2 linked regions of the Homo sapiens genome follow. The protein of the gene in region 1 purifies or fractionates together with the protein of each later gene. This does not show direct contact. Each region holds a gene or a part of one and is shown on either strand. Other genes may lie near its edges. The genes, in order: NAT8L and FLNC.

What was found.
Region 2: the proteins of NAT8L (region 1) and FLNC purify together in Homo sapiens (affinity purification with mass spectrometry, with the first as the bait; one large-scale study listed by BioGRID). This does not show direct contact.

What each region holds. Positions count from the first base shown.
Region 1 is NC_000004.12:2,065,583-2,069,384, reverse strand, and holds the end of NAT8L (N-acetylaspartate synthetase), read right to left. Parts: 3' UTR 296-3,802; downstream 1-295. UniProt on the Homo sapiens protein: Catalyzes the synthesis of N-acetylaspartate acid (NAA) from L-aspartate and acetyl-CoA. Promotes dopamine uptake by regulating TNF-alpha expression. Attenuates methamphetamine-induced inhibition of dopamine uptake.
Region 2 is NC_000007.14:128,847,195-128,850,996, reverse strand, and holds part of FLNC (filamin-C), read right to left. Parts: intron 3,301-3,802; coding exon 3,133-3,300; intron 3,053-3,132; coding exon 2,929-3,052; intron 2,437-2,928; coding exon 2,280-2,436; intron 2,205-2,279; coding exon 2,015-2,204; intron 1,817-2,014; coding exon 1,793-1,816; intron 1,667-1,792; coding exon 1,419-1,666; intron 1,022-1,418; coding exon 923-1,021; intron 836-922; exon of another isoform or gene 614-835; coding exon 514-613; intron 195-513; coding exon 54-194; intron 1-53.

The sequences.
Region 1 (3,802 bases):
AGTGAATGGGCAAAGCCCACCCGGCTGGGTGCCTGCTGGGGGAGGGGCCTCAGCCCATGGGGCCACCAAGCCCCCCTGCCCCACCTCCTGGATTACACTCCCTCCAGGGGGCAGTGCTGGCTGCAGGGCAGCCTGGCCAGGTGTAGGGGAGCCGAGGTGGGGAAAGGGGGTGGCCAGGGGAGAAGGGGGAGGCGGCGGGGGCCAAACTGGGCAACCAAGGGTGGGGCCACATCCCTGAAAGCCAGCCCTGCCACACAGTGGGCAGGAAGCGCCTCAAGAGAGCACGGGAGCCAGGTGCCTTCAACTCTGGTTTTATTGAAAAACAGCAGCATTGGGGGCCATTCAGGGGAGGGGCACACACCCACCCCCGGCCCCCGCAGCCCCTCTCCTCAGAACTCGCTCGCCCCCACCCTGGGGGCTGTTTTGGCACATCTGGGGCCTCAGAACAATCTGCCCCCGCCGTGGGCTCACAGTACAGTTTCGGGAACAAACAGCAGCAGGTGAACCCCACCCCCTGTGCTCCCCAAGCCTGGCCTCCCCGGACCTGCCCTGGAGCTGCCCAGGCCCTCCACCCAGGCCCTGCTCCACTGAGGGGCAAGAGGGGCCAGGGAGGCTCAGCCCGGGGCCTGGGGCCCAGCAGGGAAGCCGTGAGCAGGACCTGCTTCCCCGGGCACTGCCAGCCCACCACCGCCGGGTACCTGCACAGCCACATATATGCAAGTACACACACAGGCACTCGCACGCATGCATGCTCATGCAACACACATGTACACTCTACATGTACAGCTCACATATGCATCCATACACATGTGCATGCTCACCCATACACCAGCCACACACAAGTACTCATACGCATACATGCCCACACACAAAGTACACACACGTACACCATATGCATATGTATGCACTCATACACTCATACATATGTGCCCCCTCAGAGAAGTACACAAGAACATGCGCATCACACATGCATACGTGCTCATGCATACACACGCACATTCATACACACGTGCATGCTTATGCATACCCAAGACACAAACACATGTACACGCACACATGCGCACACACACGTACATCTATACACGTGCTCACGCATGTACACAACTCATGCACATGTACACCTATACACGTGTACACACACATGCATGCTCACGCGTGTACATGCTTATGCACCTACAACATGCACGTGCACAGGCTCACACATGCACACATGCTCACACTACACATATCCAAGAACCCACTTGCACACACACACACGCTCAAACACGTGCACATGCACACACACAGGTACATCCCTCCTTTAAAATGGCTAATTATTGCTGTTTTAAAAAAAATACATCCAACAATGGTATGTCCGGCTCGCCATCCTTCACCCCACCATGGCCCCGGGAGGCATCACGCCACCTCTGGAAGCACAGCAGCCGTGGCGCGGAGGAGTAAGCGGATCCCAGGGTCTGCAAGTCTGGAACTCAAACCCCAAGTGTCAGCTCTGTGGCCATCAGCCCAGGAACACAGGCCTGTGGCCAAACAGAAGCAGCTTCCAAACAGACATAAGCAAGTCAGCAGGCAACACAGGGTGCGCGACTGCAGCGCCAGCCCACGGGGGATGGCAGTGGGCTCCCTTGGCGCAGGGGCAACTGTCCCACCGTCCCTCGGGCACTGACAGGAAGGTGGCCCCACGAGGGCCCACACAGCCCCCTGCCCGGCGGGGCAACCACCTTCGGCCCCCACAAAGCCCAGGCGCCAGCAGAGCCCAGGAACCCAAGTTCCCAGCCTCAGGCCACCAGCACAGCCCTGGGTGCCCCAGGGCAGGCGGGCCTCTCAGAGGGGAGCCAGGTCCCTATGGCCCAGAGAGCTTCCCCAGCACCTGCCACACAGCCAGGAAGCTCAGGGCGTCCCCAGCCCGTCGTCCCCTCTAGGGCCTGCAGCCTTCTGCCATCTTCTCTGAGAAGGACACCCAGAGCAGGAGAGGGGTGGCCCCAGGACCTCGTGGCCTCAGGCCTGCTGTCCACAGGGCCTCCCAGGCCCAGCCTTCCCCCAGGGCCAGCCATCCACCCCTCAGGCCAGACTGACCCAGCCCTTGGCCCCTCCCTCCGGGGGCAGCTTCTCACCTGCTGCCCGGCCCCAAGGCATGCCACCAGCCGGAAGCAAGGCTGGGCATGGGGCGGAGGAAGGAGGAGGAGATGCCGCCACGGCTGCGGGGCTCAACTCCCTACGCTCAGGAGCCCTTCTGGGGGCCAGACCACATGGCAGCTTCAGCACAAGCAGGCCTCCCACCCTCAGGGACCAGGTCTGCAGCGACTCACACCTGGGCAGTGGCAGCTGCCTGGGGCCACCCCACCCCCAGCACAGCAAGACCCGTGGCTCTGGGCAGTGTGGGGCATCCCGAGGCGCTTCAGCCCTCAGCTGCCCGGAGCCTCTCGTCAGGCCTGCAGTGCTCGTCCAGTGAGGATGTCCTCCTTCGCCCAGCTCTGGCCCCAGGCACTGTCAGCCCCTCCCGCCTTCCACGCCCCCCACTCCAAAAACAGAGGCTTCCAAACACACAGAAATCCCAGGAGCCCCAGGCCCCTGAGCAGTGCTAGGGCCCGGCCTGGCTTTCCCCGGGCCTCACCACGCAGAGTTTGAGTGGTGGGTGCCCATGGGGAGCGGGCAGGGGGCCAGCACTCGGGGAAGCCGCACCAGCCACGTGACAGCAGGGCCCAGGAGGGCGCTTCAGAGGTAGAAGAAGTTACATCAGAGTTTCTACAAACGTATAAAATTCACGTCAGTGCACATGTGCAGAGCAGTGAGATCCCAGGCTGGAGGGATGAGGTGGGCCAGGTCAGGCCCACCCACCAGGCACCCGGCCTCCAGCCCCGGGGGAGGACACACCTACCCCCCAGTGGCCTTCAAGGGCGCCACCAAGCTACACATTGGCCTGGCAAGGGTTCCGGGCAGCTCCGCCCCAGCCTGGCAGGCACACCAGTGCCTCTGCTCACCTCAGGGGCGGCAGGGTTCTGCACACAACCACCCCGCACACCCTTCCTGCCATCTCTACCAAGTCCTGGCAGCAACAAAAAAGGCCAAGCGTCTCACCACCCACAGGGCAGTGCAGCCAAGGAAGAGGTCACTCACGGGCGCAGATGCCACCAGAATGAGAGAAGGCCACACTGCCCAGGACTCTCAGAACCCCCAGGAGGGGGATCTGCTAGGATCAATATCAAGGAGACACTGGCAGTCCCTGGGCCTCCAGGCCCTGCCCTGGCGTCGGTGGGCTCCAACAGCCACCCCCAAGCACCCTGCACCCCAGGAGCCCGAGGCTCCAAAGGCACAGGACCAAGGGACGCTGGCAGCACCCCGACATGACACCCCCAAGACCTGACTCCACCTGGCCCGCCCTGCCCCTCCTGCCCCCAGCATGCCCCGCACCAACTGGGACCAGCCCCAGGCCAAACCCAAACCAAACCAAAAGAGGAAAAAGGCACAACTGTTTGTTTCCATTTTGCTAAAACACTTTACGTCTGTCTGTATATTCCAGATTAACAAAATCTGAGCTGCAAGAAAATAGGGTGCCGATTTCTGTACAGTCTACAAAACTCCCATCCCCAAGCGGGGACCGGGCACCTCCAGGGAGGAATGTACAGGGGAGTGGGGTCTGTACAGTGCTCTGCACACCTCAATTGCTAACAGGACAAAAGGCCCTTGGACGCAGGGCTTCTCTGTCCCTTCGCTCGCTTCTGAAGCGCCTCGTGAGAAGCATCCCTCCATGGCCCTGCACGTGGCCTTGATGCCTGGGACCCAGTTCCGTGGCCCACCCTGCCTG
Region 2 (3,802 bases), on another chromosome or scaffold:
CTACGGCCTGCTCCTCTCACCCAAGCCCCAGCCCAGCCCAGCCCCTAACTCACCAGGGATGTGGTTGCCGTCATACTTGATCCCCATCTGGTGCAGGCCTTTCTCAGTGGGTGCATACCTCACCGTGATGGTGCCGTCCTTGTTGTCGGTGATGTTGGGCCGTGCCGTCTTCCCCGAGGGCATCCGCACCTCTCCTGCAGGGCAGACACAGTTACGTGGAGACCCTGGTTTCCCCCACTGCAACCTCCCTGCTGTCCCAGGCCTGGTCCTGAGTGCTTCTGCTGCCACCCGAGAAGCCAGGCATCAAGAGACAGCCTGTGGCAGTGGCCTGAGCCCTGAACTGGGGACAGATGGCTTGCACCTGAGTTCTGGCTCTGCCCAACTTGCTGTGTGACCCTGGGTAGAGCTCACTTCCTCTCTCTGGGCCTTTGTTTTCATCATTAAGACACAGGACTGGGCCTGGAAGAGGGTTTCTCCCCTCAGCCCTCATGCCTGGGAGCCACAGGGCAGTACCTGTGAGCTCCCCTTTCTGCACCGCGAAGGGGATGACCAGGTTGAAGGGCCTCAGCATGGACTCCATTGGCTCCACAGGCACCACTGGCTCCTCTGTGGCCTGCAGCAGGTGAGAGGGAACAGTCAGTGACTGGGGAAGGCCCAGGAGTTTGACCCATGCTATGACTGAAGCTGGAGAGTGAGGAAAGAACAAGGTAGTTAATCATGAAACCAGCGTGGCAGGAGAGGTGCGTCAGCTGCAAGAGAAGGAGTGCTGTGCCCAAGTGGGGTTCCATCTGCCCAGCCTAACTCTTGCCTGCTCCCCAAGAGGCCCCCAGACCATGTCCCCGCCCTGGCTGCAGAGGAGTAGAGAGAAGAAATGAAGGAAGGGGAGGAGGAGGAGGACATCGCCTGGTGGGAGGCGCAGTACCCAGTGTGTGGGGCGGGCGCCGGGCCGGGGAGGAGCGTAGGGCTGGCGCAGCTGTGGCACTTCAGAGGGCTCCTCCTCGTGCGGCAGGGGGTCACACGCCTGGGGAGGCAAGGCACGGGGGCACAGGGTGTGGCAGCCTCACAGGCCTAGGGGCTGACTCAGAGAATGGCCCAGGAACCTGAAATGCTGGGTGATAATTTGGGTGTTCATCCTCCTGCAGGGCAGCCTCTGGGGAGATGGAGCTGGGGATGGTGGAGAGCACAGCGGGTTCCTCCAGAGACAGCTGACAGCACTGGGCAGGGGGCAGGGCCATGCTCTCCTCCCACTTCGGGGGTGCTGTGGGGAAAGTTAAGGCTCCATCCTGGAGCACTCTGGCCCCAGGAGCCCTCAGAGAAGTGGGATTCCTTGGGGACAGTTATCTGGGATCCCTGCTGCTGCTAAAAGGGCCAGGCCCCCCTCCCCAGCCATCTAGTCTTGCTGTGGCTACAGAACTTACCAGCACGTGGAAGGGGCTGTTGGGGATGTGCTCACCCCCGAAGCGGATGGTGATGACGTACTTGCCCGGCTCGGGCGCTGTGTAGTAGATGTCAAAGGTACCGTCATGGTTCTCAACCACATCCACATCGAGCTCTGCCCCATCCGGCGTGGACACCGTGCATGTCACCTTCCCCTCACCGGCTGCCTTGGCATCCACCGTGATCACCGTCTCCTGCCCAATCTGGATTCGAGGGCCCAGGCAGGCACCTGCCATGCGGGAGATCCTGCTCAGGGAGCTGGTGGGCTGGAGCCAGCCCTCTCTGTTCCCGCTGCCCGCCCCCTACCGCCAACCACCCTGGCCCACACCAAGAAGAGGAGAGAAAGGGCACTCACCCAGGCCATGGCCTCCAATGGACACTGGAAAGAGAGAAGAGTGTGAGGCCAGGCGGTGCTCAACGTGGGCTGGGGCATTGGGCGGGGGTGAGGGAGGGAGGGGCCAGGGCTAGGGCATGTGTGCTCTCCGACCAGCAGACCCCTGGGGACCAGGCCAGGGTTCTGGAGGGGCTTTGAGGGGCTGGGTGGTGAGCAGGGCACGGGCAGCGGGTGGGCACCCACCTGTGACGAGGCACTTGCTGGCATCCCCAGTGGGCAGAGCATGGATGCGGAAGGGCGAGTAGGGGATCTCATCACCGCCATACTTGATGGTGATGGTGTACCGGCCACTCATGTCCGGCAGGTAGGACACAGTGTACGTGCCATCCCCATTGTCCCGGATGTTGGCCTTCTTGGGCTTACCCTCGGGGTCCTGAGGGAGAAGCAGAGGTCAAGGCCCGCCTGTGCCTGGAGCATGACCTGCGGGGTGGGATGCACAGAGACTCACCAAGATCTGGACAGTGAGCAACCCCTCGCCCGCGTCCCGTGCGTCGATGGTGAACTCCACAGGCAGGCTGGCAGGGATGCCAGAGGCGTTGAGGCCTGGGCCGCTGGCCCGCACCTTGCTGGCATCATGAGCTGGGAGGACCTTGATCTTGAAGGGGCTTGAGGAGCAGAAGGGATAAACAGTTGGCTGGGTGGCATGGACGGGGCGGTGGGGGGTGATCTCATCTTGAGCCAGAGTCCTCCCCATAGACATGGGCAGGAGGGAGGACTGTGGGGCAGGGAGGAGGGACCAGTTCCCAGAAGCCGATGACATTCCATGTCTGGGGGTGGGGGCACTCTGGGACTCCCTCGACAGAGCCAGGGTACGTCTCCATTCCCCAGGAAGGTGCTGTGGGAGGGTCCAGGAGGAGGCCCTGGCCCAGGCCTCCTGCACTCTTCCTAAGGCGCTAGGTTTGCCGTAAAAGCTCCTGGGGCAGGAAAGCCTCACAGCAGAGAGCCCCGGGGAAGAGCGGGATGGGGTGGCGAGACTGGACGAGGCTGAGAGCTGGGAGAGGCTCTCCCAGGGGACTCCAGCAGTGATCCTGAGTGCCACCCCAGCAGGAGCACCCCAGAGCTCAGCCGCAGCACAGGAGCCCAGGGCTGGTCCTCACCTGCGTGGCACCTCCTGGTCAGCATACTTGACGGCTACCGTGTAGGGCCCGTCAGTGGCTGGGGTGTAGTGGACAGTGTGGGTGCCATCTCCATTGTCCCGCACCTCCACAGGCTCGGCCACACCTGGGCAAGGGGCACAGGGTCAGCAGAGCCTCCGGGCGTCCCGCCCCACCTCCCTCCTCCCTGCCCCGGCCATTCTATACCTGTGGGGCCCAGCACAGCCACCTGCAGGGGCGCCCGGCCAGCTTGACTGCAATCCACTGTGAAGGTCTGAGGAACCCGGGCCCTGACACCAGCCCCCAGCCCTGGCCCTGAGCACTTCACCTTCCCAGGGTCCACCACATCCTTCACTGGCACGCGGAACGGGCTCCCTGTGAGGAGAAGGACATTAGACCCTGCCCACCAGCCCTGATGGGTCCCCCTGATGCTGAGGAGCCTCGGAGGAGGAGGCCTTCCCTGCCTTTGAAATGCCCACAGGGAAGCCAGACCAACATGGGAAAATGGCTAGGAACTTGCTAAGAAAACACACACAAGAATAAATGAACTTGACTGCAGACTGAGGCTGGGCAAACCTCACTCATGTGGGTCCCAGGCCTGGAAGAGAAGGCCTTCCTAAATTAATAAAATGTGAAAATAAAATGTTTTCAAAAATGAAATGTATTTCTGACACTGTGGCTGAAATAATAAAAAGATGGGAAATTAGATAAGGGAAAAAATTTCCAATTTCAGCAGTCCCAAGTCATACAATATTTGAAGACATGACCTGCCCGGGCAGCTGGGTCTGCAGAGGGCAGGGGAGTTCTGCAGACGATGCGTGCAAGAAGGCCCAAGGCTGGCCTGAGCCGCCAAGAGGAGTGGACTGTGTCTGAGTTT